Linked DNA regions of Homo sapiens: all the other regions are linked to region 1. The links come from fine-mapping of genetic effects on gene expression. A gene starts in region 1. Each other region holds a variant in brackets. All regions are shown on one strand. Distances are from middle to middle.

Region 1 (10,530 bases):
AAGATAATATCAGCAGGTACTATAAGGCTATCACAGTTTAGAGTAAATAGACCCTTTGCCCTCTCAATGCATTTGAGGAAAACTAAAGTTAATTCAGAGCATGGACTTGGCTCTACGGAAACAGGATACATAGATGCAAACCTCCCTTCTGGCACACACTCTGTAACCTCGGGCAAATTACACCTGTGTTTCAGTTTCTTCATCTGTGGAATGCAAATAGCAGCATCTAACTCATAGGCTCATAGGCTTGTAGTGAGAGTTGAAGTTTATATCAGAATATGCATGGTACATAATTAAGTGCTATGATGTTAGCCATTGATTTCAATTTAAACACAAAGAATAAATGACATGCTTTGCCTGTAAAATAGGTGCCTAAAACGGCGATACATTGGGCATACTGGTATATAATTTGGATCGGTTTCTATTTCTCAATCAATAAAGTCAAGTTTCTAGCAGAGGAGGGTATTGAGTCAGAGCTAAAGCACTCCAGCTTGTACAAAGGGAAAGGGATACTTTGTTCCTTTTTGAGACGGAATCATCTGGGCAAAGAAAAAGAGAGAACTTCATTCAGAGGGCTACCAGCTGTTCTTCCCAGTTTCTCAATTTTGAAGAGCACAGGCCATAAGAACCCTGGCTAGTGAAGGGTGGTTAAAGAGAATTAGGCCCTTCTGATGACCAATCCAAAAGCTGGGAATCACTGAAGGTCTTTGGTGAGCAATTTGGCACAACTGGTGAATCATTCTGGCTGCTGTAAATGAAACAGATACCAAGACGTTGAAGACAGTGGCAGAGGCTGCAGAAAACATCACAGCAGCCAAAGCCCAAAATAAGTCAGTCCCAGCATTTTGACAGTATATACAGAAAAAGGGAATAGCTGTTATCAGTTCTTTTATTAGGGGGAAAATATCAGTCTTAGAAACAACCTGATGAGAAAGACTTAAAAAGATACAAAAAAGTAAGGTAGGAGGCTTAAGACCAAGGGAAAAATAATGCAACCACTAAGAAAGGTAAAAGATGGGGAAATGAACGATTGTCAGTTTAAAAAAAAAAAATTCATCAATGCTCCTTGGGAAAATGGCTGATTTCAGGGTTTCAGGTCGGGAGCAGCAGACTATGGACAAGATGCACTTAGAATATCTTGCGTCAGAAAAGTAAGAAAGGTATTTGAGTTTACTGGCCATTTAAAAAGTATACAGGAGACAAAGATAAACCAAGCACCAAAAAGGATATTGACTGAAGTGACAGAAACAAATACATTAAGATTCATAAGTTCTTAATGACACTTAAAAAAGAAAAACTCACTGGTTCTCACTGGAGATTGTTAAAGCACCAAATCATTACTCTGATAGTTGGTAAAAGGAAAAAATTAAGACTTTTCCCTGTCTATCCTGCACATTGTGAATTTCAGGAGACCTAAATAATTTATGAGGGAAAGTTCTTTACAGACCGAATTCCAATTAATAAATGCAAGAAGAATGATGGATTTAGATCATCACCATTTTGCAACCCCTAATGAAAAGGATCTAGGCTACAACGATCTGTGATACTAAAATCATTAAGTAGAAGACAGACAGCTAAGTGACACTACCTAAACTCACGAATCAATCTTTCCATCTCAAAAAGAGAGATATCCAGACATTATGCGTCTCACGATGTGATGCAATAGATTTTACACAGCACCATCCATGAAGGTTACTTGTCTTTGAACCTATATCTAATCAAACCTCTATATCTAACTGCCAGATCACAGGAAACAGAATAGAGGAACAAGCTAAACATCACCACAAGGAATCAGTCCAGACAGTAGGATGTTCTACAGCACAAATGAACCACTCTCTTCTGCAAATCACTGGCATGAAAAAAGGGAGGGGAAGCTGTTATAAAATAAATTAGAAATCCTAACAACTAAATACAATATGTGGACCTCATTTAGCTCCTGTTTCCAACAATCATAAGTAAAAAGACAACTTTGAGAAAATTTGAATATGGAAATTATATTTTTAAATTATTAATATTTTAGGTGTGAAAAAGGCAAAGTTTTGCTGTTGTTTTTAATGTCCTTATCAGGACCGTAAACTGAAAAATTTGTGAGTAAGACAACATGATGTACGGAATTTTGTTTTAAAATGCACTAGCCCCTACAAAAGTGTATGGAGGGGGAAAATAAATGAAACAAGACTGGCAAAATGCTAATAACTGTTGAAGCACAGGTGTTCATTATACCATTCTCTCATAATCTCTGTTATACAATTAAAAAAATTAAAGGGTTTTGTCAGGAACTCAGGTTGTGCATTACTTTGCTACTGATTTTTAAGAGGTAGTTAGGGCCCTCCCACAATGTACAACTTAGTCTTTCCCTCATTTGTCTTAAAGAAGTGCAAAGAGTCTTAACCAGTATGCATGCTGAATTCAACACAACTAGAAGTGACTGAACTGAGGAACCAAGGAACTCAGGCATATTAACCAAATGGCAGTTTGATTTTTTCCTAGTAACAGATAGCCTACAACGTAGTGAGACCCCCAGTCTCTAAAAGAAATAGGAAAAAAAAAATTAGCCAAGCATGGTGGTGTGTGCCTGTATCCCAGTTCCTCAGGAGGCTGAGGTGGGAGGACCGCTTGAGCCAGAAGGTCGAGGCTATAGTGAGCTATGATCACACCACTGCACTCCAGCCTAGGTGGCAGAGCAAAACCCTGTCTCAGAAAAAAAACAAAACAAAACAACAACAACAAAAAAAGCCTATAATGCACCTGGGTTGAGCAACACAACCCACAAAGAACTTTGTTAATGTCAGTTGATGTCAGATTGTCCAGGTTTGTGGGAGCCCAGGGCAGCATGGATAAGGACCACACATATTCCTAAATCAGATCTTGGTCAATATAGGAGATGAAAACTCAACTAACTCATGTAATGCACAAAGCTGTGTCTTTACTAGTGGTAATGGATTTCTGTTAACTTATCCCTGAAGTCACGCAGCTCCAGTCTGGAGGTATGGCCCATGAGACACAAAGCTGAAGGTCTACAAAAAGATCCAAGCCATGATTTGTTTGCATTAGCATCACTGCCCAATCCAAGGTGGTTAACCAGACAATCCCAGATGCTAACAAGTCACCAACCAACCAGTCTGATACATATTCTACTTGTATCTCTCTTTCTTTCAAACCCCCTGTGTTTTGGACTGTTAAGTGTATGCCCCCTACAAAATTCTTATGTTGAAGCCCTAACCCCAAACATGACATTATTTGGAGATGAGGCCTTTGATAATTATTTAGGGTTAGACTAGGTCATGATGGTGGGGCCCTCATGATGGGATTAGTGGCCTTATGAGAAGAGGGAGCCCTCTCTTCCTCTGCGTTTACCAAGGGAAGGCCATGAGAGGATATACGAGAAAGTGGTCATCTGCAGGCCAGGAAGAGAGCCCTCACCAGAAACCTAATCAGCCTACACATTGATCTCAGGCTTCCCAGCATCCTGAGCTGTGAGAAAATAAATTCCTGTTGTTTAAACCACCCAGTCTACGGTATTTTGTTATGACAGCCTGAGCTGCCTAAGACAAGTTCATATTTCACTTGTTTTTCTCCTTCTTTCAACCCCCTTCCTACTCCTTTGATGGGGAAGATTCCAAAATCACAAAGGTAGTTCCAAGGCAGAAGAAAGGGGAAATAAACAGTCAAATAAATAGTCAAAAAGTATGGGTTTCCAACACTGGAAAAACTGACAATCAAACTTCCTTCAATAAAAACTGGCTATGCAGTTACGAAATGTGTTTGGAAAGTCCCAAAAAGAAATAATACAGTATTAGAATCAAAGAGGGTTAATAAAGCATACATTATCTGAGGTAACCACATTCAGAGTAATTAAAAAATAAAACTAAATAGGTATATTGACAAGGTATACGACACCCTCCCAGGCAGCAAGAAACATGAGTATGAACGCAAATAAATACTATAGATCTATTTATACAGAAACCCTCAGCAATTCTTGTCGCAGACTGCCTGGCAGCCCTCATGTCTTCAGTATTCTGTGCCATGAAAAAGTAACCGTCAAGGATAATAGAAACATAATTTGACCTACTTTTCCCTGGATTCCTGCAAAGTCTATAACTCCAGTTCTTGTTTATTCCGACACCACATCTTGGGGACACATTTCCTCACTTACTTTGCAGGCAATCCTAAATGCCACACATGTTAAGGTCACTTGTGGGCAATTCCTAAACTCTCTGGGTCACCGACTTTAAGAATGTCCCATCACACACAGAGAATCCTCAGAACATCTTCTGAGATGGACCTGGGATGGACCATTTTCCACCTGAGATGGAAAATGCCTAGGAAAAGAGAGATGCAGCCTCGAGAAGCTGAAGACCGACATCAGTTCAGACCCTTCCCTACCCAAAGGAGGGCGCATGAAAACAAGTGGTTATCCCTCACTCTCAAGTTTACACAAACCCATCTCTGAAAGAGCTAGAAGTCTCCCAGCAAGGTCTTGTTTTAAGTCAGACAAGACTGCATTTTAAAAATTACAGCCAAACGGGAAAGAAAAACCACATTGATGCAGCTTCTCATTAAAGACCACTTAATAATAAATTTTTAAAAGATGAGTAGAACCCACCAAAGGTGCCGCCAAACCCTGGTGAGCAGGGAAATCTGAGTAAGTCAGCTCTGTGTCCTGAGGCCCTGGCGGGGCCTCCTAGGTGGCTTCTTAAAGATCCCAGGAGACAATCAGCAGACCTTCCTGCTTCTCTTAAAAATACAAAACATGCCTGACCTGCTCAGGTCATTAGATGCACTTAGAACTCAATGAGGGACACTCCTTCACCAGGAAATCGTATCTGAACACACCATCAGGAAGTCAATATTGAAGGTTCTTGGGGGCGTGCACCCTCCTGCTCAAGAGGGTGTCCAGGAGTATTAAGTGCTGGAGACACCGGAACCCAGGAACTGGAAGCTCACCCAAGAGCTTCCGACTCCTGGGTCTGCCCCTCGGCGGTGGAGACCACCAAAACCAGTCTCGATGCCCAGAGCTTGCAACAGCACCTCCAAAACAAGCACACACGTCGCATGCGTCCTGCAAACAGGGATGCCGCTCGTGGGGCCTGAAGCTTGCGGTTGGGACAGGGCTGGCTGGCTGTTGGACGCTGGACACCTGCAGCTTCCCCTCCGAGAAGAGGCAAACAGCTCGTCTTCAGCCGATGCCCGGTCCCGCAGCCTGAATCTGGGGGCCCTGGGGTTAAGTCAGGTGCAGCCTGGTGGGGGGGAGGTGTGGGGGCGGGGGAAGCCGTCGCTCAGGGGGTGGCACCTCAAAACCCGCCGTCCCGGGCCCCTCTTCAGCCGAGTCCGGCAGAAGGGCGTCCCTTCCGCCACCTCCCCAACTTCCAGACGCCCCCCTCAGCGGCCCGGGGGGTGGGCGCGGGCTCCACGTGCGCGCCGCCCGTGCCCACTCGGACAGGGCCGGGCCACTCACCCGGCCCCCAGCGGCGCTCCGCTTCCTCCGCAGCGTGAGCCCGCTCCGCAGCAGCGCGGGCAGGTCCCTCAGCCGCGGCCGCAGCGACGCCGGCGGCTGCTCGCGCTCGGGCTCCCGGGCGCTGGGGCTGCGGCGCAGGGGGCCGTCTGCCGCCACCACCGCCGCCGCGGCGGCCAGGGCCGGGCTCTCGCACGGCGGCTGCATCTTGACGGAGCCCACGGCCATCCTCATGCCCTGACGGCGCTGCGGCGCCGGGGGCTCCTCTCCACCGCGCTCGCCTCCGCGCGCCGTCCGCGCCTTCGCCAGGAAGCGAGAGGGCGCGACTGCGGCTCGGGCGCGGGGCGCGCTGCCAGCCGCTGCCCATTGGCGCGCGCCGCGGCCCCCGCGAGGCTCAGCCCCGCGCGCCTCCCCTCCCCTCCTCTCTCCTCCCCTCCCCGCCCAGGTGCGCGGGCCCCGCCCCGCCCCGCCCTTTCGCCTGCGAAAGCTGCCTGGGACCTGTCCCCCTCGGATCTCCCACTCGGGACCCGGGAGGAAGAGGGCACCTTGGGCACCGGCTCATCCACAGGTGCAGAATTCCCAGAATCTCCGGCAAACCCGCTCTTCTGTCCTGTCCCTGTCCCCCTACCCCTTAGGCTGAAAAGTCCTGCTTCACTTCTTCGAATAGCCAGGGGTTGACTTGGACTTCAACCAAGTGTGCTGGAGAGTCGTCCGCCCTCCCGCGCGTTTTGCACAGCCTGGCCCCTCATCGTAATCTTTACTCCTGGGAACTGTTTTGGCCAAGGAACTTCAAAATAGACACGCTACAAGGCAAACACCATGAGGCAAAATTGCTTTGCGCCGACCCTTCTTGGCACACGCATCCTTAAAGGACGAAGGGAGAAAACTTTTGTTGGTTATGATAGGTGTTGAGCAGAGTAGCTGCAAGTCTGGTGACCTGAAGGTGAATCTCTGTTAGCATGTCAGAACCTGACCTTCCCTGAAAGCCCGCTGCTGTGATGAATGTGCTTGGTGAACTGTAAAGGCCTGCCGTGGTGTGAATCATTGTTTACACCCTTCCAGGAGGCAGGAATTCTGGATCATTGAGAGTGAAACTATTCCAGCAGTGCCTTAAACGCCAGGGAGTGTGAATGTTCACATCTCAGCTCAATCTGTCTTCAACAAGGGCCAGCCAGGGTGTTGACTTCTCATCAGTGGGGCGCTGGGATCCCCATCTTTGTCTAAGACTTACAAAAGTTGAATAAGCTTATTCACATTTTTAAAAAATGACAAGAATCGTAGGAGGTCAGGGTCCAGAGTTGGTTTACCATTGTGCCCTCAGCCACTCACATGGTAGGTGCTTGGCAAATATGTATAAAAACATGCCATGTAACAAAAAAGGAGGAACGAACTGTGACCTCTGCCCTTAAGGAAGGTAAGACTTAACCTAGGAGTAGACAAACATCCAGAAAAACAAAGATATTGCACTTGTACTCTTGCTAATTGCCAAGTAAGTGTAGGTAAGACCACTTCAGGCCACAGGAGAGAGAAATGCTTCTGGCCTGGGATGGGCAAAGCTAAATCCACGAAAGGAAGGAAGTTTAAACTGCACCTTAAGGGTGAGTGGGGAAGATTCAACCAGGCAGAAGGAGGGTAGGTGTCCTTCAAGTAAGGAAGAAAGACATGAGGCCGGGCGCGGTGGCTCACGCCTGTAATCCCAGCACGTTGGGAGGCTGAGGCGGGCGGATCACGAGGTCAGGAAATCGAGACCATCCTGGCTAACAAGGTGAAACCCCGTCTCTACTAAAAATACAAAAATTAGCCGGTCGTGGTGGTGGGCGCCTGTAGTTCCAGCTACTCGGGAGGCTGAGGCAGGAGAATGGCGTGAACCCGGCAGGCGGAGCTTGCAGTGAGCCAAGATTGCGCCACTGCGCGACAGAGTGAGACTCCGTCTCAAAAAAGAAAAAAAAAAAGAGAGAAAGACATGAGAAAAACACAAAGGTGGTATCACACAGAACTCACTGGGCACTGAAAATATGTCATGCTAGTGAAGGGAAAGATGACATAATGAAGAAGTAAGAGAAGATACCAGAATGGATGCTAGTAACACACTGCAGAAGGCCTTAAACCCTGTCACCTTAAGCTGTGTGTGTTAACTGGAAAGGACTTTATAATAGGACTCCATAGTCCATTACAGTTTCCAAATACCTATCACATGCATTTATCCAAGGCTGAAATTGCATTTGTATGTTACCATGTCAGACTCTATCCGTTTTTACAGTGTTAAGATATTGCAGCTCCAGTTGGTAATTGGTCGTTGTCTTGAGCCCCAGAGTGCCACTCACCCCCATACCTCCAACTTCCCCATGACATACAACTAAAGGGTGAACACCTGGCCCACTAGAAGCCCTCCAGGACACTCAGATTAGTGGGTGCTTGCGCCCCATCACCCCAATGACAACATTGAATCATACCATGAACTTACTCTACTCCAAAGTAGAACACGTGTTCCGTCTCCTGGTCCAGGTTCCTGGTCTTCAAACCCATTCACACAGTTGCTCAATGCAAGGCCAGCATTCCTTAGATTCTATGGGATAGACCAAGCGTCTAAAGTTCAAGAAGGGCCTTTGGAAAATTGGTTTAGGTTAAGGTGATAAATGACAAATGCCATTTAGCTTCAGGATAAAAATAGGCAAACAACAGGGAATAGTAGGATGTGTACACAGAAGAGCCACGTCACTGTTTAACTCAAATCAAGCAACCTTTATACTCGCTGTGCCCTGTCTGGAATGAGAGTCCTCTGCAATGCTGTCCAACAGAACTTTCTACAATGATGCACATTTTCTGTTATCTGTTTTGCAGCTACTAGCCACATGTGACTGCTGAGCACTTGAAACATGGCTAGGGTGACTGAGGAACTGAATTTTTAACTTTGTTTAATTTTAATTCATATAAATTTAGATAGCAGCATATGGCTAGTGGCTACCATGTTGGATAGTGCAGTTCTAGAAATCCACATTTCTCTCAGTCAGTGTCTTCAGTTTTTAAATTCAAATGTCACCATTTCAGTGAGGCCTTCCATGACCATGTGATTTTAAATTGCAGTCTTTCCTATCCATTCCTTTCTTCATCCCCTTCCGAATGCCCCACAGAGCTTACCACCATCCATATTCTATATATTTTATTTATTTTGCCTATTGTCTGCCTCCCCACAACTAAAATGTATATGACATAAGGACAGGGCTTCTTTTCTCTTTTGTTCAGTATCTAGAACACATGAGTTGAATAATTCAATTATTTCATATATAAGAACTAAGTTTTTCAAACAGTTTAATCTGGATTTCTATACAAAATCTGATTTTGCAGTATGAAAGCTTATAAAAATGTAAATCATATAAAAATGGATTAGAATGAATAAGATCTACTGTTGGTAGCACAATAGGGTGACTATAGTTAAAAATAATTTACCGTATATTTTTAAATAACTAAAGGAGTGGAATTGGAATGTTCCTAACACAAAGAAATGATAAATGCTTCAGGTGATGGATAGCCCAATTACCCTGATTTGCTCATTACATATTCTATGCCTGTATCAAAACATCACATGTACCCCATAAATATGTACAGCTATGATTTACCCATAATAATAATAAATTTTTTTTGAGATGGAGTCTCGCTCTGTCACCAGGCTAAAGTGCAGTGGCACGATCTTGGCTTACTGCAACCCTCTGCCTCCTGGGTTCAAGCGATTCTCGTGCCTCAGCCTCCCGAGTAGCTGGGATTACAGGCACGCACCACCACACCCAGCTAATTTTTGTATTTTTAGTAGAGATGGGGTTTCACCATATTGGCCAGGATGGTCTCGATCTCCTGACCTCATGATCCGCCCGCTTTGGCCTCCCAAAGTGCTGGGATTACAGGCGTGAGCCACTGCGCCTGACCAAAAAAATTTCTTTTAATGTAAATCATATTTGTGCCAACCACACAAGTCAACGAGACCACTTGCCAGCCACTTGCAATTTTTCCTACAGGATGGGGTACCAGAGCTGAATTTTACTTAAGAGAATGAGATCATCAAAGTCAAAGTGTGTGTAAAGACCCATGGTAAGAAAACACAAATTTTAAGGCTATTGGCAGGATAGCGAAATTGAAGACCAGGAAGATAGCTCTGACAATGAGCTAGCTACAAAGTGATGAGGGCCTGAATTCATTGCGGCAATGGAAACAGAAATGAGGGGTTAGATGTTAGACAGTACAAAAGAAGGCTCCTTGGGCATAGGAGCAGTAGAAAAATACTTCAGATGGTGTTGTGGAGTGTATTGTCCAAAGATGGACAGTTCAGCATCTCCTATCTTCCAAGCTCTTCTGCAGTGTGATATTGCCACTCCCCCGAAAAGAGATGGAGTTTCTTTCTCCATCTCTTTGAATTTGAGCAGACTTTGTGATACAGGAGTTAAGAAGAAATCACTTAGGCAAATAGTAAGGGTATGGGAGTCCTTGGAAAGACTTTCCTTTATAATGAAAAGCAGTACCAAATCATTTTCTAACAAAGAGCAGCCTGTAAAGTGGAGCTGCAGATATAGACAAGCAAGCTGGGAGCTTGCACAGGTCAATGTCAGCAGGAACTAGGGTCTAAACATATTCAAGATGGCGGCTCCAACTTCCCTTTTCTCCCAGCCATGTGTACAGTGAGGACCAGAAAAGATGGTGCAGGCCAAAGGGAGAATTCATTTGCATAATAAGATTAGCATGGGGCGACCAGTCTTCCCCACTTGCTATGTAAACGTCACACCTGATCGAACCAGTCTGTGAGCCCTAGGTAAATCAGACACTGCCTCCTCAAACCGAACTATAAAATCCGGCACATCCACCACCAGCCAGTCTTTTCTGCTGGGAAGACCCCCCTTCTCTCTATAGAGAGAGCTGTTTTTCTTTCTCTTCTCTCCTGCCTATTAAACCTCCACTCCTAAACCCCTCATGTGTGTTCGTGTCCTAAATTTTCCTGGCACAGGAGGATGAACCCTGGGTATATACCCCAGACCATGTAGCCGTTTCACTTGTGAATGATCTGGCCAATAGAATAAACAGAGGTGACT
Region 2 (10,530 bases), 240 kb before region 1:
CGCAGGGTCTGTTGCTTTTGAGGGCTGTGAAGGAAAGGTCTGCTCCAGGTACTCCCCTCCATCCCCCACCCCCAGCATGAGTGGCCACCTTCATGCTCACATGGGTGTTCTCCCTGCCTGTGTCTGTCTCCAAATTTCCCTGTTAGGAGAACACCAGTGACATTGGATTCAGGCTCACCCTAAAACCTCATTTTCAGTTGATTACCTCTGTGAAGACCCTATCTCAAAAAAGGTAATATTCTGAGGTATCAGAGATTAGGACTTTAAATATTAAATTCTAGGGAGACACATGTAAACTCATAACAAAGAACTTCCCTAGGTACCCTACTTAAGATCCCACCCAGTTAGGGAGCCTGGCACTCCCTAATGCCCTTCCCTGCCTTAGCTTTTTTGCTCTTGAGAACCTTATTACCATCTAATGTGTCTGCTACATGTTACTTACCTGTTCTGTTTATGGCCTTTTTCCTTGGATCAAAGGTCCATGAAGAAGAGGTCTTTGCCAGGCGCAGTGGCTCACGCTTGTAATCCCAGCACTTCGGGAGGCCGAGGTGGGCAGATCACGAGGTCAGGAGTTTGAGACCAGCCTGGCCAAGAGACCAGTCTGGCCAATATGGTGAAACTCCATCTCTACTCAAAATACAAAAATTAGCCAGGCATGGTGGCAGGTGCCTGTAGTTCCAGCTGCTCGGGGGGCTGAGGCAGAAGAATTGCTTGAACCCAGGAGGCGGAGGTTGCAGTGAGCCAAGATGGCGCCATTGCACTCCAGCCTGAGCCACAGAGTGAGACTCTGACTCAAAAAAAAAAAAAAAAAAAGTAGGGGGGGTCTTTGTTCATAGTTGTTTTTCCATCACCTAGAATAGTACCTGGCATACAGTAGATGATCAGTACATAGGATAGAAGATGGAGCTGATGAGGGCCACTGTAGACTAATGTGAATGAGCTAATATTACCAGGTAGAGAGAGGTGGGTGAGGGGGTCAGCTATTGGTTGATTTAAGGAAGAAAAACACCATGCAAGTATAACATGGGGCCCAGGGTGAACCATCCCTTTTTTGGCCTCTCCTGCTTTTACAATGGGGACTTCATCTCAACCCAGGCCTCAGAGTGCAGGCTCTGCCCTTTAGCTTGCAGACTGCGTTCTAAATGAAAGCAGAGATTTCCTCCAAGCACAGAGCACACCACAGAGCACAGTGAACAGCCTGCTGTTTTCAGGCCCTTGTCAGAAATGATGACGCTTGCATGTGGCAAACCAGCAGCTCAAGGTTTGGAAGGGGAGCTGCTGTTCAGGGATTCCTGGCCTGGAGTCCCTGCAGAGGGCCAGCAGGGAAAGGAATGGGGTGGCATCTAGCAAGAGCGCTTTGCCCAGTCCTCAGAGAAGTTGTGGCCCAAGGTCTAGTCAGCATTTTTGCCTCCAAACACAGGAATAATAATAGCATGAATACTAACAGGAGTATTATCCCAACTTGGCAAGCTATAGGAAGATACCTTCATTCAGATAAATCAGCCAATACTTAGGGAGCCATTGCTTTGTCCTGGCATTGTGCAAGGCATGAGGGGATTCCAAAAGGAAATCTCTCATATTCTTATTTCACTTTAGCATGAACAAAGAACTCGCACATGCATTGTCCATTTCATTCTCACAACTGCCCTGTGATAGAAATGTTCTATTATCTTGTTTGACAAGAAGGGGAATGAGGATAAGAGAAGTCAAATGACTTACCCACAGCCATGTATATTCAATGATTGAGGAAAAATGTGGGTACACATCTTCTGGCATGCATCCTGTATTAATAATAATAACAGGCCGGGCGTGGTGGCTTATGCCTGTAATCCCAGCACTTTAGGAGGCTGAGACTGGAGGATCGCTTGAGCACAGGAGTTTGAGACCATCCAGAGCAACATAGCGAGATCTCTTCTCTTAAAAAAAAATTATATACACACACACACACACACACACACACACACACACACATACATACATATAAGCCCAGTGTGGTGGTGCTCACCTGTAGTCCTAGCTACTCAGGAGGCTGAAGCTAGAAGATCCCTTGAGTCCATGAGTTCAAGGCTGCAGTGAGCTAAGATCATGCTGCTGAACTCCACTGTGGGTGACAGAGTGAGACCTTGCTTTTAAACACACACACACACACACATACACATACACACACATAAAGTATCACTAATTGGATGTGAACTATGTACCAGGCACTGTATTTCGCACTTTATATGCACTTTCTCATTTTACTTTTCACACAACCTTGTGAGGTAGGGAGCATTTTATGAGATGCAGAAACAGCAGTGAAGAGCAAGGTAGAAACTTTCGCCAGTTTTCCCAGCTCTTGATAATGGAAGGTGGTTCCTGAAAGAGTAGCAGGTGCAATCGGCTGCAGGAATTCAGATAAGAGATGGGGGCAGGGGCTCGATGTCAGATGGGACATCCAGGAGGGCTTCAGAGTGCACCAATCCTTATTTGGTAGGTAGAGAAGGAGTTCTGGGCACACTGTGTCGAGTGGGCAGAGAAGGGACAGGCCAGACCTGAGTGCTGGGGCCCGGCAGGGAGGCTGGGAGATGAGACAGGATGGGGCTGCACAGCTGGAGGCCAGGAGTACAGTGAGGAGCCAGGCGGACCAAGTCCCTACCCTTAAGGAGGCAGTAGCCAGCTTGGCACTTGGCAGCATGCCGTGATGCATTGATTCCAGGGGCTTTTCTGTTTGTTTATTGCAGGCATTCATCCCTGGTAGGACTGTGGAGTCAGCAGTGGGCACAGGACAGGGAAGGGGTGAGGTGTTCCTTTCCGGCATCCTCCCACGGCCTTTTCCCTTCCAGCTTCTGAGGCCTAGCCCAGGTCAACTGAATACAAAGAAGCATGAACAGTTCTTATTTCCTACATTAGTCAAGTCACTTAAAAAAAAACACCAAAAAACTAATTAGTTCTGGCAACTGCAGGTCTACACCAGCTTTCCTAACCACCGTGAGCTGAAAGGGTCTTAAAAGTCTCCTGAGACGGCTGTCATCTGATTTCTGGATTGCCCTTGCAACCATCTCTGCTGGTTGATTTCGGGTCTGTTTGCACATCTCTGATGGGGAAGAGCTCATTGTCCTGAAGGCAATTCTGGTGGCCTGGGCTGCTCTAGTTAGGGCCAAGACACACACACACACACACACACACACACACACACAGTTACACAGAGGTATATACGTATCCTTCTCAGTCTGGCCTCCAGATTTCCCACCTTGAAAGGGACTTGAGAGTTGAGACACCACAGCCCTGTTGTTGCTGTAGAACTTGGGAAGGGCAGGGCACGGTGGCTCATGCCTGTAATCCCAGCACTTTGGGAGGCTGAGGCGGGAGGATTGCTTGAGCCCAGGAGTTTGTGACCAGCCTGGGCAACATGGCAAGACCCCATCTCTACAAAAAATACAAAAATTAGCCACGCATGGTGGTACACACCTGTAGTCCCAGCTACTTAGGGGGGCTGAGGTGGGAAGATCACCTGAGCCCGGGGAGGTTGAGGCTGCAGTGAGGCATGAGCTGTGATCATGTCACTGCACTCCAGCCTAAGTGACAGAGTGAGACCCTATCTCAAAAAAAAAAAAAAAAAAAAAGAACTTGAAGAACTTGGGCAGCAGCTCTTGCCGCTGTCTCAAGGCTTCCAGGTGGGCTAATTGCTTTAATTGCTTTTGAGACTTCAATGTCTTTGCCCTCTGTTGATGTCGTGTTGTTTTTTGGTCGGGACCCCAAGAACAAGGTGACCAGTAGAGGGATTTTCTCAGGAAGTGATTTTCACTCAAGTTGGGAACTTTCACACAACTTGGGAACTTCCAGATGTCTGTGAGTAAGAGGGGCCTTCCAGAGACAAGGGTACACTATTACTTCCCATGGTGGCATTTCGGGCAAGCCAGCCTCTGAGGCTGGGACTGCTGTTCAGGGTCTTCCAGGGAGAGGAAAAGTCCAACCAGGAGAACTTGGCGTTTCTACCCACCCATTTCCAGGTTGGAAACCTGGGAATATAGGAACCACCCAGAGATAATGGCGTGAATCCCCAACAGGGGAGCTTGTTCTTTTAGAGGAAGATTTCCAGACCTGTTGAGATCTTCTTCACGGTGTGGCTGTAGCAGAAAATAATGGTGACATGATATGGCTAGACAGGGGGGGCTTGGTTTACCCTGGTTCACAAGTGTCACGTGAGGAGAATTTGGAAGTTCCTTAACTCCAGGCTGGAGGGAGAGCAGTGGACTCAGAAGGTGGCTACAGAGTTTACTATGGGACTGCCGTGGTGAGCAGTGACATGACCTTGTGGCAGAAATGCCCATAAAGCTAACCATAGGGTACTGTCTCAATTCCCAACACTTGGAAGACCCCCATCCCCAGGATAAGGATGGATGATTAGAAGCCACAGTGGGGCCAAACACAGGCCGAGTTTCTCCTGGGCAGGAGAAACAAAATAAAGAAATGCGACTGGACCCAGCTCTGAGTCTGGCTGGATCAGGGATCTGAGTGCATTCCCCAGGAGCCCTGCACTAGCTCAGTCCTCAGGATGCCACTTTCTGCCTAGAAAGTCAGCCCTGCTGCTTAGGTGCTGGGAAGGGGAACTGCTATGGCTCTGTTTAGGCAAGAGAAATTCCTGCTGCCTTCAGTAACAGGAGTACTTCAGTAAAGAACATCAGCAAGTCTAATGCTTTAGGAATCTCATTTGTTGAAAGTAGTGAATGAAGAGCAAAGGCTCATGGGGTATTCAGAAGACCTCAGACAAAAAACCTCAGACGCAACCTCATGCCTTGAGTAGGATTCTGTTGCTAGTGCACCAGGGCCAGGACCAGAAGTTTCATTTTGAGTTTTGAGTTTTGCTAACAGGAACAGGCTTCTGAGTTCACGGGAG[C/G]CCTGTGCATCTTCCCAGTACCGGCTATCCCACTCGAAATTGAAGAAAATCTCATCACGTCCTTAGCAATGGGTATTTCTCTTTCTTTCCTATTCCCTTCCCAAGCTGGAACCTAGGGCTTCTTCCCATTCTCCCTTCATCTCCTGCATTCTCCAGGTTCCAGGAGGACCCCATGGGGTCAGCCCCTACAGATGAAGTGATTTAGGGATCAGGACTTCTCTCTTCCAGTGGCTGCCTTAGAGACAATGCCCTTGTGTTTTCTCTTCCCATTTCCCCTTGTTTCACAGAAGTGCCACTTCCTGGTGATGAAAAACCCAAGAAAATTATCTTCAGGTCTTCTTTCCCATTTCTCATAAAAAGCCAAGCCCTTTGCATGGATGTGCGACAACAGGTGGCTTCATCCACGAGGTACTGTGCTGAGCCAATACTGCCGCCCACAAGTGGACGGAGGGAAAGGGCAATTTGTCAAGAAAAGACTGTCCTGAGAGACTGTATTAGTCAGCTGAGGCTACATTCTGCTGAGTAAGAAACCACTACCAGACCTCAGAGACTTCTAGTGATGATGTCTGATTTCTCACTCAAGTTAGACGTCGTTCACAAGCCAGGACTCTGCTCCATGTTTCCTGTGATCCAGGACCCAGGCTGACAGGGGTGCCTTCATCTGGAGCAGGGCAGGTCTCACAGCACAGCAGGCATGGCAGGTGCAGGCTACCTCATAAAGCTTCCACAGACATGTCTCCCCATTTTTCACTGGACAGAGCAAGACACTGGGCCACTCCTGGGTTCAAGAAGGTGAGGTTTATAATCCCCCTGCAAGGGGGAGATGGACACATGCCAAAGGCCAAACTTGACCTCGATGGGCAAGATGTACAAATTTCCTGTTTACACAGAGAGAAGATGCTGAACACTCAGTCTGCGCTAGTGTATATACCGCCTGGCATCCCACTGCCCCAGAGCATCCTTATTATCCCTGTGCTGCTCCATCCACTCATGGCTCTTCCGCTGTCAGGACCTCTATCCTGGGCCCCGGGCATCACCACTGGGCTGGTAGCTGCACTCAGTATCTGGGCTGGTGAGGGACAGTTCCTGGTCCTGCTCAAGTAGGGTGAGGCAATGACAATGGTTGCCAGATTCCCCAGATTTCAGACTCTGAGAACACTGATGCAATTTCCAAAATAGGGTGTTTAGGTTCTGCAATAACCCAATGGCAGGATAAGTGATTTAGGCTTCTATGGGCTGCCTGAGAACCTCTTCATCTACTTGTAGCTCTTTCAGTGAGCAAATGACTTCTGAGTTCCAACCCCCTGAGCATCATATGCTGCCAGAACAGAGCTATTTAATCCACACACATCACAGAGAAAGCAAGAAACTAAGAGGCATGAATAGTGTCTTTAACATAGTCTCATATTTGGAAAAGCAGTTTTAAAAAAAAATTGAAAATACAAGATAAGGTAAGGGTTACTTATATAAGTTTTAACCTTATATTGCTTGGCCATTTTTACATATAAATTATTGCTTACTAGCTTCGATAAATACACAGCACAGTCATATACATATATATTATATATATACACAGAGGCAGAAAGCATGGAATATGGGAAAGAAAACACTGTTAATGGCAATTCTGGTAACTCAACAAATGTTTCATATTTACCAGTTCTTTAAATGGTGGAAAACTACCAAGTGTAGTCCCTGAGAAGTTAGGTAGACACCCTGATGGCGGGTTCTCTATCTTCTAATTGTTAATGCAAGCTGACAATATCACAGCAGCCCTAATTAATGATACATTAAAAGGCAAGATTTCTTGCTTCAGGTCACTGATTTCATCCCAGTATTTAATAACAGTGTGATACGAATACAATAAATAGACTATGCAAATAAATATTACTCTGCTAAAAAATGTTTAGTATATACAGCTTTGCTTTATACAGTAATACATTTGCATCTAACTTTTTGGCAATTTTTAAAAACTTCCCCCCCGCCCCCCCACCAGTTTTAAGCAAAACTGGCCCACTCGCTAAGAAGCAGGCTGAAATTTTAAGGACATGTTTTTGAAACATTTAAAAGAAATCCTGTGTTGGACCACTGCGGAAGACCCGATCGTCCCCATTTTAATGTTTTTGCCCAGTTTCTGAAAAGCCTGGATTGGCTGCGCCATTTAGGAACATTCAGTTCCGGATCTGCGGTGTCTGTGCTGGCTAGAACAGACTCGCAGGGCTGGGATATGGGTAGCAGTGAAAGCCCAGCTCCAGGGATAAGAAGTCATCACTGGTACTCTCTCTTTCATGCCACGATTTCTCCTCCACTCAGAGGCAAGTATATATTCATGCAGCATCCTCTCCCTGTGGACTAGGCAGTGTGAGCACTGACCTTATCCACATGCTTCTAAATTCGGTGTATGCTCCACACTACCTGTTTGTGGTTCTCGGTCTAGGGAAATGAATTTATTCTAAACATAATTAAGGAAACTAGAAAAAAGTGAATGCAGGTCATGTGTATCACTATAATCATTTGGCAATTATACAGATGACAAAGAGCAAATTCAAAACACCACACTCTAGGGAACACCTGCAAATGTGTATGTAAAACAAAATTTTTTTTAATAGCAAGGTTGTGATTTTGCCTACGGGGTCCTGCATTCTGCTGTCTTGTGCTAACTTCTAAGCAGGGCTAGTTTGCTGGAATGCTGACGAATCCAAAGACCCACAGGACTGTCTGAGAGTTGTGCTGTAACAAAAAGAGCCCACTTAGAAGTGCCCCTGCACCACCTGGTGCCGAAGGTGCCAGATTACGTAAGATTTGCAGAGTGAGCGAAGATTTTATGCAATAATAAAACTCCAAATGAGAGCTGGCAAAGAGCTTAGCCATCTTCTAGACCACGCTTCTAGCCAGAACAAACCCTATTCTGAAGAGGCCTTGGTGAATATCCAGAGAGGGTGCATGGCCCATCCTATTAACAAGGAGCACTCAAGCCCCACCACTGTCCACCAGTGAACAGCTCAGATTCCTTAGAAAGAGCTTTCTGTTGAGTAATATCTGGTTCTCACAATTCGGGCTTGAATTCTTTAATTCCAGATCTAAGATTCTGCAAAGCTTTGGAAACTTCTGAGAGCTGCTGCCTGGCAAACCTCTGGAGACAGTTGTTAAACTTCAGAAAGATGCAGAGATTTTAGACATTCAGAAGACAAGGATGGAAAAGCAAATCTTGACTGCACAAAATCCTCCCTTCCCTCTGCTACCCCTAGGACCACCTAACCACGGCTGGAGGAAGAGGTGAACAAGCATCATTTTCTCCCCAGCCAGTTTACACCCATGTCATGTGAGATACTCTGAAGTCACTGTACAAAATGCATTTAAATACCACATTTGTGTAGCTTCATCTGGCTTGGTGGGCATATCTGACTTGGGGTCTGAGCAGCATGCAATATGCTGAAATAGTTCTCCATGGAAAATTAGTCCCCTAAAGGTAATGTTCTACTAGGAGCAATGTAGTTCTAATGTAAATAAAAATCCAAATTTTGAAACACAGAAACAATGTCAGGATGGCCTTATATGATTACACTGGCCAAACCTTAGTCCAGGGCATAGGAAAAAGGTGAGAACACGTGCTTGTGCTGTAAGCCCATGCTATTGTTAGTAACTGCGTGAGGAGGGCTTTGGAGGGTTTGCTCAGCCCAGCCGTGAGGGAAGTCTGCTCTCCGGTTCTCACGGCTCTGGTGTCCTGTGGGCCACATTCCATGACGGCAGCATGCAGCATTTCTCTGAATGGACCAGCCCTGGAGGATGCCCTTCTATAAAACCCTATAAATGTTCAGGACTGAAGTTTTACATGCTGGGCCAAACTAAGTCTCTCTCAAAGTTCTCCCAAACCTTCTCTCCACATGGTTCCTTCCAGCAGTATCTCAAGCTCAGTGTGGTTCCTGAGCCCAGGAAACAGCACTGCTATAAAGATGTCAAAAAGCATTGGACACGCCTCAGTAATGAGGATGAATGAGGCGTTGATGAGACAAAAAGGAAACAGGTCTGTGTGGGCATGAAAGAGATGAACAGGCAGGAAGAGTGAGAAGTGCACCAAGACTCCTGCATTTGGAAAATGAATGGACCAGGCCCTTGCATTTTAGCAAGGTGACAAGTATCTAGCAGGCAGGGGTGGATTTCATTATTTTGACCCATAGGCTGTTTTGTTCATGTGAAGGTTGAAAGAAATCCTCTAACCAGTCCTTGAAAATATCAAGAGGTCTTATTTGCTACAGGAGCCTCAATTGGTAAAAATGGGAATAATAAGATTTTAGAAGACTCAGATTTTGAAAAAAAAAAAAAAAAAGGCAAATTATAGAAAGGCTCCCTGCTTTGGCTGGTAGTTGGATTATAGGACTTCTAAGTTGCCAACATTAATCAGACATTTGGCTATTTCAGGGCATTTTTCATTTGCCAAAACACTAGTAATTACCACTATCTTATTACCTAGAGAGTGCTAAGTGCTTCACTCATTAAATGTCACTTAACCTCCCTGCACTGGCTGCTGTCATTCCATAGTGTGGGCAAGGAGCCTGTATGAGGTACGCAAAATGCATCATCAGGCACAAGAATGCAGACTTTTGTGACTCTGTCACCTCAGCAAGCAGTTGGTGAGTGTTTGCAATGTGTCAGGCACTGTGCTTTTTCAAAATCATATTATGTCCAATAAAAGATAAGAGCCTGCTTAGAAGTATAAAGAAAATCCCCAGAAATTAAACAATGAGTCAATTTCTTAAAGATTACTATTTTTCCTTACTGGCAAAGCAACTTCATCTACCTTGCCTATAGCTGCAAATCAGTTGTACAGAAACTAATTTCACCTGCAAGCATGTGTCAATAGTTGATTGTGGTGCAAAGTGATGCACACCTTGACATTGTTCATCTGCCCATCAGAGCATGGATGCTAGCTGCAGTCCTCACTAACTCCCTAGACACAAGTGGCTTTTGGTGATGTCACAGGTTGTATCAACAGAAACCTCTCCTCCCTGGAGATCTAGAGATGCTGTCTCTGTCATCAGGTGTTCAAAAGAATGACTTCTTTGACAGCTTATGGACAGTAATCTAAAACTAGGCAAAGTAAAAACTCCTTCCTGTTTCATGCACGCTCTTAATGAAATATTTGGTCATTGCATGTCAAGACGTTGTCTTGTCTTGATGCTGGCACATCTCATATTGAAAACTGGACTGGATCAACAATGTGATCATAAGAAACCAGCCTTCTCCATCTCAAGAATGCTTCTGACTCTCCTTCTGCCTTCTTGTCCCGAGAGTAGCATGGAGAAACCTCTCCCCCTCTCTGGTGGCTGACATCACTTCCTGAACACGCTTTGGCTGGCTTTCCTGTGAATGTCTTGGGTTATACTGATAAAACTCAGCAACTTCTTTTCTCACAGGAAAGCAACGTGCTTGGCATAGACATTCCCGTAGCTCAAAGTGCTGCAGATACAGGGGAGGTGAGGCAGTGGGGCTCACACCCGAGGCTCGATCCTGTGTGAGAGCTCAAACAGAGCCTGCTGGCTGTCAATGACATACAGGTGATTAACATAGGACTTTAACTCTTGATGCTCTTTTGGAGACAGGTCACCTGTTGTTTAGAGGGGGAAAAAAGACAATCTCAGGAGAGCAGTAATGCT
Region 3 (10,530 bases), 100 kb before region 1:
AAACAAATCTTAATCACTATATGACAGTATTTAAAATACAGTATTTTTATAACCTATCTGAAAAATGCAAATAGCTAGAACCAGGGCTTGCTTATCTGCTTAAAAAGACAATGTCTGATTTAGAAACTCTCAAGTGTTAAGTATTTTTTATTACATGAGTGAAAAGAATAGTATATAAATTTCACTTTTGTCATAAGCATCACTTATCCTGGTGGAATTCAGCTGAAGCAAATTATGCACTTTGCATCACTTACTATGGAATATTATTTACTTTTCTTCACATACCATGTTCATGTCATTTCCAGTTTTACTGAGAACAGTTCCATTTGCATGTCTGTTTATCCAATTAGACTTTTAATGTGACGAAGGATGGACACTAGCTGGGTCATACGGCCAGGACAAAGATTTCCCTTGATAGCTCTTACTTGTCAATACAAATGACAGAAGAAAATGTCCCCGGGGGGAAAAAAAGGCCTTCAGTAGATTTTTACTAGGAAAAAAGTCGATAAAATGAAAAAAGTTTAGGAAGGAAAATAAATGATTAGTAATTATTATTCTCATATTCTTGTGGAATAGACAGCAATGTATAATTGAGAGAAGGGGAGCTTCCTAGTACTTGGTACTTAGGACATGACCTCCAGCATGGTACTCTAGTCATCGACCAAGCCTACCTCTGCATTTTATAAAAGAATGGAAACTGAGGCTGAAAAAAGACAGTGATTAATCAGGGGGAACACACCCAGTGTAGGAGTCAAATTTCCTGGCCACACCCCCAGAACTGCTAAATTTTGGTAGAAGCCCATGTTTTCCACAGAATTTCATAACTCTATAAGAATAGCATATGGCAAGGATTTTTCTTCTTAAGGAATATTTTAGTATATAAGAGACATGATTTTAGCCATTAAAGTTTTCTGTTTAATTATGTGATCTCCTAATATTTCCTCAAATATTTTAATATTTAATATTTTAAAACATCTACAGATTGCAAAAGCAATAATAATATTAAAATGTTGTACCTTACAGAGAAGCAGTCACAGAATTGTAAATTCTAAAAATAAATCATAGACAATGCCACCCCCCCAGCAACCACTCACGTACCCTCCAGTGCAAACCTTTATTTACCCAAATACACAGAATTTGTCAGATACAGCGTTATAAGTGGATGCATGTCCTGTTTAGGGCACCTGGTAATTAGCATAATGGCCTCTTGGGCCCTGCCTCAGAATGCTGGGTGGCATGTATCACAGATTCATCTGGGAAGCAGCTTCCACTAACCAGGGAACCAAGGACAAAGGAGCTGGCAGGCTTCAGGGGAGTAGCTGCCCAGTCAACAGTGTATTAAGGACAGCCATTAGTTGCCACAATCAGTTAATTAGCTCAACAAATGCAAAACCTAAATCATTAAATAAAGTGGCCCTGATTGCACTGCTGACTTCTGATTTGGTATCACTAACCCAGCAGGGTGAGAATGAGGTAGTTCCACAAAAAATAAAAACCTGTCCACATTGGGAAAATGATATAGGATGGGATTTCATTTTCATGAAAGTTGAGCCCTGCCAGGAAGTTTCATTGACAAAAAAAAAAAAAAAAAAAAAAAAGTGGAGGTGCCAGGGAGACCTCTGTGTTTATGCTTTGAAATTTAAATTAATTTAAATATAAATTGCTCTCCCCTTTTGTCATTATGAGAAGGAAATAAAATGTGGGTTTCAGATCTCTGGTGTGTAAATGGTCATTAACTTTCATTTGACCTTGGGTACAGAACTAATATTGGATTTATGCACAGGGTACACTCATTATGCTCATCTAGTTTCCTCACAAAAAACATGTTCCCAGGAGCTGCAATGCTGGAAGCTGCTTCTTAGCTCTCAACTAGAAAACTTGATTCTCTCTTTAATGCCTCTCCCCCGCCTTACACCCACCTCTCTGCTCAATGTCTCAGGAAACTGTTTCTCCAGGCTTAGCAATGTGTATAAAACATGTGCAAGAAGAAGTAGGACTCTGAAGAGCTTAAAATCATTGTCCTGGACCACACAAGACCAGACAGTAACCTGCTCTGGGCAACGTCACCTTACTGGCACCATCAGTGTTCAGTTCTTCCCAGGATCAAATTCCCTACAATAGGAACAAGCTTCCACTTACAGCAATTCAATTAGCTTTGTCTACTAAGTGTTACACAGCTTGACTGAAGTGCCCCAAGTATTTTTGAAAACCAAGACCTCAAAAACCTTGGATTCTGGAGTATGCGCTGCTGTAGTTATAATTATTCACCTCCTTGGCAAATCTGTTTCATTTACTATCTTAATGGGCATGACCATATTGAAGGATTAAAAAGAAAATCATCTTGCCTTGCTTTCTGATTTTCTTAATTCTAAACAATTCTCAGGGTTAAAGGAATCTAACTTCTTATACTCACTACTCTCAGATCTCCTGCTCATCAGGAGAAATCTGTGAAAAGGGCTATTTTCTTTTATAGTATGCCATTGAATGGTTATTTATCATTTCGACTTAATAGCTCTAATTACAAAAGATAGTGTCATGGGACTTTTTTTAAAGGCAATTTTCTTTGTATCCCAGTGGGAGAGTTAGAAAAAATTTACAAAGCATCTGCTGAATGCATTTTCAATTATTCCTGGGCTTTACCAGTGCTATTACTTTCTTGATTGTAAGAATTTTACATTTTCAAATATGCTTTAACTTTACAATGCATTAAGAATTACTGTTTTAAGATTCTTATGATGGTTTTATCTCACTTAAAAAAAAAAGAAAGATACAACCCATCAAACATTGAATTGATCACTGCTCAACAAGAACATGCACTGGTGGAGACAGGACGTGAATATACAAAATTTGTCAGCAAGCAGGGACAGAAGAACGATCTCTGGAAATGTTAGAACAATGAGTTATTATAGCACTGGAGAAGGAGACAGATTTTACAAACTTCAACAATCAGCATGGTGTTAGGCAAAGCTCTCTCTTTTGGGGAAAACATCCTAGGAATCATCAATCAATTAGGAAGACAAGAATGTTGTGTTGATTATTTTAGGGGAAAACACATGACACTTCTTTCCTCTTGGCTGACAAATGCTAAACAACACATTCAGCGGGGTTATCAGACAATCGGTGTTGGCCTGTGCTGACCAGAAATGAGAGTGATGGGCGCTGCTGGACACAGTATCGAGGATGTGGCAAAAGAAAAGAAAAGGACAGAAACAAACCATCTGGAAAAATCAATTCTGAGAGGATCCTGGTCCATCCTTTGAGAGGCTGTGAAAGTCTTGGGAAATGTACGTGGTTGAAAATACCACCAAAAAATAAGCATAAACTTTTAATTACTTAAATACAGCCAACAGACTCCTCTTATAACGTAGCATTTTTTAGCGTAAACACTCTTTATTAGAACACTCAGCAATTAGATGGAAAGAAGATCAAAAGGAGAGCATTCAAAATAATATCTCTATAGCTTTTTAAGATAACTTAAATTTCTTCCAAAAAAATTAAACACATATTATCAGAAAGGTAAAGGAAATCTGAGATGACAATAATTATATTAAGCAAGTCAGCCTGTCTTTGCTGACCCTAATTTTATTACTAACATCCATTCTAAAATCCCATTTGTCATGCATTCTCCTAAATATTAGCTATGTATTTACCAAAGGATCAAGGTAAAGTCTAATATGGTGCTACGTTAAAAGAAGAACCTGTCAACTAAAAATAAAAAGTAAAAATTTATAAGACCATAAAAGCAGAAGCTATTCCACAGGTATAAAGGTTATTTTTTTCTTCTACACATGAAAAAGGGAAAGCCTTATTTATACTGTTAAAAATATTCTATCATCAATTTCATTTCTTGTGACAAAGCAATATGAATATCTTGTCTTTGGAATATTCTGCTCCAAAGTAGAATATGCCTTTTCACTGGTGTCCAGTTTCAAACCTCACAAATGCCTCGCATGGTGAGTCCTGCTAACATGTGACTGCTCCCAATATTACATACATATACTTGAAAAGGGGGCTTAAAACCTCTAAGTTTTCCAAAATCGTGTTACTGGTGATGTGATTGTTACTCACAGTAGATCTGGAAAGCTGGGACTTTAGACAAAGGGTAATCAAAAGAAAAAAAAAAAAGGCCGGGCATGGTGGCTTACACCTGTAATCCCAGCGCTTTGGGAGGACGAGGCGGGCGGATCACCTGAGGTGGGATGTTTGAGACCAGCCTGACCAAGGTGGAGAAACCCCGTCTCTACTGAAAAAAAAAAATTAGCCAGGTGTGGTGACACATGCCTGTAATCCCAGTTACTTGGGAGGCTGAGGCAGGAGAATCGCTTGAACTCAGGAGGCAGAGGTTGCAGTGAGCTGAGATCGCGCCATTGCACTCCAGCCTGGGTGACAAGAGCAAAACTCCGTCTCAAAAAAAAAAAAAAAAAAAAAATCAAACCCCTCAGATTGTCTCATAGAGCAGTCCTCAACCTTTCTGGCACCAGGGACCAGTTTCACGGAAGACAATTTTTCCATGGACTTGGAGAGGAAGGGGGAGATGGGATGGTTTTGGGATAAAATTGTTCCACCTCAGATCATCAGGCACTAGATTATCATAAGGAGCACGCAACCTAGATCCCTTGCATGTGCAGTTCACAACAGGGGTCGCGCACCTGTGAAAATCGAATGCTGCCACTGATCTGACAGGTGGTGGAACTCAGCGGGTAATGCTTGCTTGCTGCCACTCACCTCCTACTGTGCAGCCCAGTTCCCAATATGCCACGGACAGGCACCAAACCATCGACCAGAGATTGGGGACCCCGAGTCTAACAGGTCCACCTTGATTACCAGATCCTGGGGTTTCCTACTTGAATGTTTTACCTGGAGTTCACTGTCATGGCAAATAAGAGTTAGCAGGTTGTTGAAACCATATGCCCACCCCAAATGCCTATTTAAGCTTGAATACAGGATTATAAGGTCATATAGGATACATTCTTTGAACATAGGAATCAAAGATGTATCCTATATGATCTTAGAAAAAACAATTTAACGTAAAACATTGGCTTCTCTCTTATCCGTTCTAGCCTCTTAAAAATAATAATGTTTTTAAAAGCTAAACACAATAAGCTAGCTGGGCACCATGGCTCACATCTGTAATCCCAGCACTTTGAGAGGTCAAGGCGGGAGGACTGCTTGAGCCCAGGAGCTTGAGACCAGCCTGGGCAACATAGCAAGACCCTATTTCTACCAAAAAAAAAATTAAAAATTATCTGGGCATGGTGGCACATGACTGTAGTCCCAGTGACTTGGGAGGCTGAGGTGGGAGGATCACCTGACTCTGGGAGGTAGATTGCAGTGAGCCATGATCACACCACTGCACCCCAGCCTGGGTGACAGAATGAGACTGTCTCAAA[ACAAAAC/A]CAAAACCAAAACCAAAAACACAATAGGCTAAACCATTTTATACACTTTGATATATCATATATATTGTAATATCTTAGTAAAATATTTTGGTACATGAAGAACACTTTAACCTGAATTCCTGGCTGGTTTATCCTAGAAAGAGAGAAAAAATGTTATTACCCACAACTTGAAGAGTTTATGAGTTTTCAATTCATTCCTTTCAATTTCCAGGAACAAAAGCAGAATAAGAATGCCTTTTCACAAGTTACATATTTACTCTCATTATCTTGAAAATTACTAATCAAGAGTGGGAGTGTGGCTGGAAATGCCAGAGACCAGGTGTTGGAAAACCTGAGTCTGCATTCTGCCTGCAGACTTTCTAGCCTGTGTGAGTCTCAGGGTGGCACCTCCTCTCTAAATCTTGTGATTGAGACAGTGCAAACAATTCCTTCTGGGGTGATCACATTACTCTTGCCTGCCCAGCAGCCATTCTCCCCTCTGCTGGTGTTCTTTGTAGAGCCATGTATTTTGCTTGTGTGGGGTTGACTTGACCTGTCTACTTCCCCCTGCCATTCTCCTGCTGCTCCAGAGGTGGGCACTTCATCCTTCCAACAAGATCGCTTAGCAAAGCTTCTTTTGGGGCTATCAGGACAATCCCTCGCTGAGACTGTTAAACTCTACAGAGTCCTTGAGGCAAAAAATTCCCTTTTTGGTTTTCAGTTAGTTTTTCTGTCACATGCACCTAAAATAATCCTGAATAAAATAGTCCCAAGGTTGTGACTGAGGTGAATGAATGTAAAAAGTGAAAACATTGTTAGAACAGGATTTTTAAATATTAGAGCTGGAAGGAATCACTGAGGTTACCAAATTTTACGCCAGCCCCTGCAAGATACAAATTGAAATCACAAAGCCGAGGTCGCAAAGACACGTAATGACAAAAATAAAACAGAGCCTGGAGGTCCTTCTTTCCTTTTCAAACTTTAAAATCCCAGATACTTTAGTTTTAAAACACTTAACTAGCTATGGGCTAAGGACAGAGAGTGAAATTTAAACACTGCCAAGGAGATTTACCACTATGAGATTTCTGGCTTTCCAGAAATAGAAGCCCACCATGGCACAAATTTCATATGATCTAAAGATAATGAGAGCTAAAAGTGCTTTGGATTCCCTGGAAAAGGGAAGTAACACATCTCCCAAGACACTAATGAGCCAACATTAGCAGGAGAATAAGCAATCCAACAACGAGAAAGAAGTGCAAGGATATCTGTGCAAATTTCTGCAAATCTTATGAAGCCTTAAAATGCTATTCACATCCACTAAGGTTCGCTCTTAGGGTAGAAAACTGTTCAAAGGCACATCCTAATGGCCTTTTAGAAAATTACAACAAATAGATTTTTTACTAAGCTTACAGCCTTTAATTATTCATAAAACCTACACTGATTGGCAGTTACTTTTATTTCTGTTTGTACAGTGGGCTGAAACTAAAAATTTTTTACATTAATGCTCATTTTAATAACCTCTTGCAGTTAGACAGAAATCCGGCAGGACCACCTGTGCCCTAATTAACAGTTTTACTACAAGACATAAGATAGTAGGGTAATCAATTCCTTCTGTCAAGCTCCAGATGTGCCAGCTATCATTTTAAATACTTTTTTATTTGATGTATATTAGCTTATTTTTCTTCTCCTTTAAAAAGTATTCAATAGTTTTAAAAATAAGAAGCATACATAGAAAACACCATTCTGCAGCTGGAACTCTACTTAATTAAGGCCATGCTTAATGGTTCTGCGTTTGATCACCTCCTAAAATCACAATAAGAAGTTTACCTTTCTCTGACAGTCACTGACTCATTAATGCATTCTATTTATGAAACATATGCTATGATTTTAAAACAGCAGGGGCCATACTTGTCCTTGCTCACTATTGTATCCTGTGTCTTACACTGCATTCAGCTTATAGTTTGTGCCCAGCTAGGGTTTGATAAAGGAACAAATGAATACAATACCTATGACTTAGGCTCTTTTGTACCTTGCCATTGTTCCTTCACATCCACACTCAATGCCAACTCAAGCATTGAGAATGCACAGTGAATCAGTCAGGTATCTCTAATATTTCCATATTTGAATTCTTTGAATACAGTAATATATATCTTGTTGGTTATTTTTACCCCTAGATTGTTTCCCAAATGTATTGTAGTTCAGGGTGGGGAGGGGTTGTAAGAAAGAAATGTCTTTGTTTTTTCCTAATACAATCTTCTTCATTTATATTGCTCTTCTAATCAGAAAACATTATATTTAATTAAAGTCAGGGGCAAAATAAGAATGACAACTATCATTGATATTATTCAAACTTATACTGCAAGGCTCTAATGAAATATTATAATATGGGAAAAAAGGAATTATATGCATTGGTAAACATAGACAAAACAGTCATCATTGACAGATGATGAATTTGTCCATGTGGAAAATCCAAGATAATTTTTAAGGAAGCTATTAGAACTCATTGGAGTTCAACAATTTTAAGGGACACAAAATCGAAAATTCTCATACAACAAAAAAAGAGCCAACTAGAAGAGATAATAGATGTAGATACAGATAAACTGATTCTGAAGTTTTTATGGAGAGAGAAAAAACTGAGAATAGTCAACACAAGATTGAAAGCGAAGAACAAAGTTGGAAGGCAGACACTACCCAATTTCAATACTTAACGTAAAGGTACAGCAATCAAGACAGTGTGGTATTGTTGAAAGAATAGACAAACAGGCCAGGTACGGTGGCTCACGCCTGTAATCCCAGCACTTTGGGAGGCCGAGGCAGGCAAATCACCTGAGGTTGGGAGTTCGAGACCAGCCTGACCAACATGGAGAAACCCTGTCTCTACTAAAAATACAAAATTAGCTGGGCATGGTGGCACCTGCATGCCTGCAATCCCAGCTACTCAGGAGGCTGAGGCAGGAGAATCACTTGAACCGGGGAGGCAGAGGTTGTGGTGAGCCAAGATCGCGCCATTGCACTCCAGCCTGGGCAACAAGAGCGAAACTCCGTCTCAAAAAAAAAAAAAAAAAAAAAAAAAGAATAGACAAATAGATCAATGGAACAGAATAGAGAGCCCATAAATAGACCCAAATATAGTCAATTGATCTTTGACAAGGAGCAAAGGCAATATAATAGGGAAAAGACTGTCTTTTCAACAAGTGGTTCAGAAACAACTGGATATCCACATGCAAAAGATAAAATAAAATAAAAATAGAACCTAGACACAGACATTACACCCTTGAAAATGAACTCAAAATGGGCCCCAGACCTACATGTAAAATGTGAAATTATAAAACTCCTAGACTATAACATAGGAGAAAATCTAGATGACCTTAGATTTGGTGATGACTTTGTAAATATAAAACCGAAGGCATGACTCATGCGAGAAAAAATTGATAAGCTAGACTTCATTAAAATAAAAACATTTCTGTTTTGCAAAGACACTTAAGAAAATAAAAAGGCAAGCTATGGAGAGAAAATATTTTACAAAAGACATATCTGATAAAGAACTGTTATCCAAAATATACAAAGAACTCAAACTCAACAATAAGAAAACATACCAATTAAAAAATGAGCAAAAGACCTGAACACATACCTCAACGAAGAAGACATACAATAAGCACATGAAAAGATGCTCAACATCATATGTCATTAGGGAATTGTGAATGAAAACAAAGAGATATCACTACACATCTATTAAAAGGGCCTACTAGAATGGCCAAAATCTAGAACACTGACTACATCAAATGCTGGTGAGGATGTGGAGCAAGAGGACCTCTCAATTATGCTGGTAAGAATGCAAAATAGTATAGCCACTTTGGAAGACAACTTGGTAGTTTCTAATAAAATTTAACATACTCTTAACACATGATCTAGCAATCAAACTCCTTGGTACTTACCCAAAAGAGATGAAAATTTACATTCACACAAAAATCTGCATATCCAAAGCTTTATTCATAATTGCCAAAACTTGAAAACAACCAAGATGTCTTTCAGTAAGTAAATGGATAAACTGGTTCATCCAGACAGTGGAATATTATGCAGCACTAAAAACCAAGGAGCTCTGAAACCGTGAAAAGATTCTGAATGCATATTACTAAGTGAAAGAAGCCAGTCTGAAAAGGCTACGTATTGTACGATTCCAACCATATGACATTATGGAAAAGACAACAACTACGGAGAGAGTAAAAAGATTAATGGTTGTCTCGAACTCCTGACCTCGTGATCCACCCACCTTGGCCTCCCAAAGCGCTAGGATTACAGGCGTGAGCCACCACGCCCAGCCCAACATGGTGAAACCCCGTCTACTGAAAATACAAAAATTACCCGGGTGTGGTGGCAGGTGCCTGTAATCCCAGCTACTTGGGAGGCTGAGGCAGGAGAATCGTTTGAAATCGGAAGGCAGAGGTTGCAGTGAGTGGAGATCGTGCCACTGCACTCACTTCAGTCTGGGCAACAAGAGCAAAAACTCCGTCTCAAAAAAAAAAAAAATTAATGGTTGTAGTGGGTTAGAGGAACATAGAGTTGAATAAGTGGAGCACACAGGATTTTTTAGGGCAGTAAAACTACTCTGTATGACACTATAATGGTGGATACATGTCATTATACATTTCTCCAAACCCATAGAATGTACAACATCAAGAGTGAGCCCTAAACTATGGACTTTGGGTGATAACCACATGTCAATGGAGGTTCCGTTATTGTAAAAAACGTAACATTCCAAACCAGAGTGGGATGCTGATAGTGGAGAGACTGTACATGTGTGGGGCAGGAGGTATAAAGCAACTCTCTGCACTTTGTATTCAATTTTGCTATGAACCTAAAACTGCTCTAAAAAATAAAGTCTATCAAAAAAAAAGAGAAATTTCATTAAAGAAAAAGACTGAGGAACCATCACACAATGCAGAAATTAGGACCAGTAAAAAAAAAAAAAAAGATATTACAAAAAATAGTTCATTTACAACAGTAATCAAAACTACAAGGTACCTAAAAATACATCAAACAAAAATGTCGACTTGTACAGGGAAAGATACCCTATATTCATTGATAGAAACACATTATCTCAAAAATATCTGATTTATATAATAATCTATAAGGTAAATACACATTTAAAAAATCC

Alleles and levels. Positions count from the first base shown, and alleles are read on the strand shown. Sizes are in standard deviations (SD) of each study's normalised expression.
For the expression in gastroesophageal junction of the gene that starts at base 5,783 in region 1, C is the high allele of the variant in region 2 and G is the other (small effect, 0.16 SD a copy in GTEx).
For the expression in pancreas of the gene that starts at base 5,783 in region 1, A is the high allele of the variant in region 3 and ACAAAAC is the other (small effect, 0.38 SD a copy in GTEx).

What was found. PIP is the estimated chance that this variant, and not a neighbour inherited with it, causes the effect. A credible set is the group of variants that fine-mapping cannot tell apart.
Region 2: its variant is the best candidate, but not a certain one, in a credible set for the expression of RAPGEF5 in gastroesophageal junction (GTEx, PIP 0.79).
Region 3: its variant is the best candidate, but not a certain one, in a credible set for the expression of RAPGEF5 in pancreas (GTEx, PIP 0.72).

The regions. Positions count from the first base shown.
Region 1 is chr7:22,351,372-22,361,901 of GRCh38, forward strand. It overlaps RAPGEF5 (Rap guanine nucleotide exchange factor 5), which reads right to left and starts at 5,783. Exons shown (of 26, transcript NM_012294.5): 1 at 5,459-5,783. The coding sequence starts at 5,689. RefSeq lists enhancers at 401-510, 801-850, 5,059-5,128 and silencers at 5,249-5,478, 5,539-5,928.
Region 2 is chr7:22,112,041-22,122,570 of GRCh38, forward strand. It overlaps RAPGEF5 (Rap guanine nucleotide exchange factor 5), which reads right to left. Exons shown (of 26, transcript NM_012294.5): 26 at 6,196-10,481. The coding sequence ends at 10,366. Among named protein-coding and RNA genes, the nearest start is that of CDCA7L, 170 kb to the left of the region's middle. The variant C/G (reference allele first, on the strand shown) is at 4,880.
Region 3 is chr7:22,250,202-22,260,731 of GRCh38, forward strand. All of the region lies in intron 7 of RAPGEF5 (Rap guanine nucleotide exchange factor 5), which reads right to left. Among named protein-coding and RNA genes, the nearest start is that of RAPGEF5, 100 kb to the right of the region's middle. The variant ACAAAAC/A (reference allele first, on the strand shown) is at 5,391.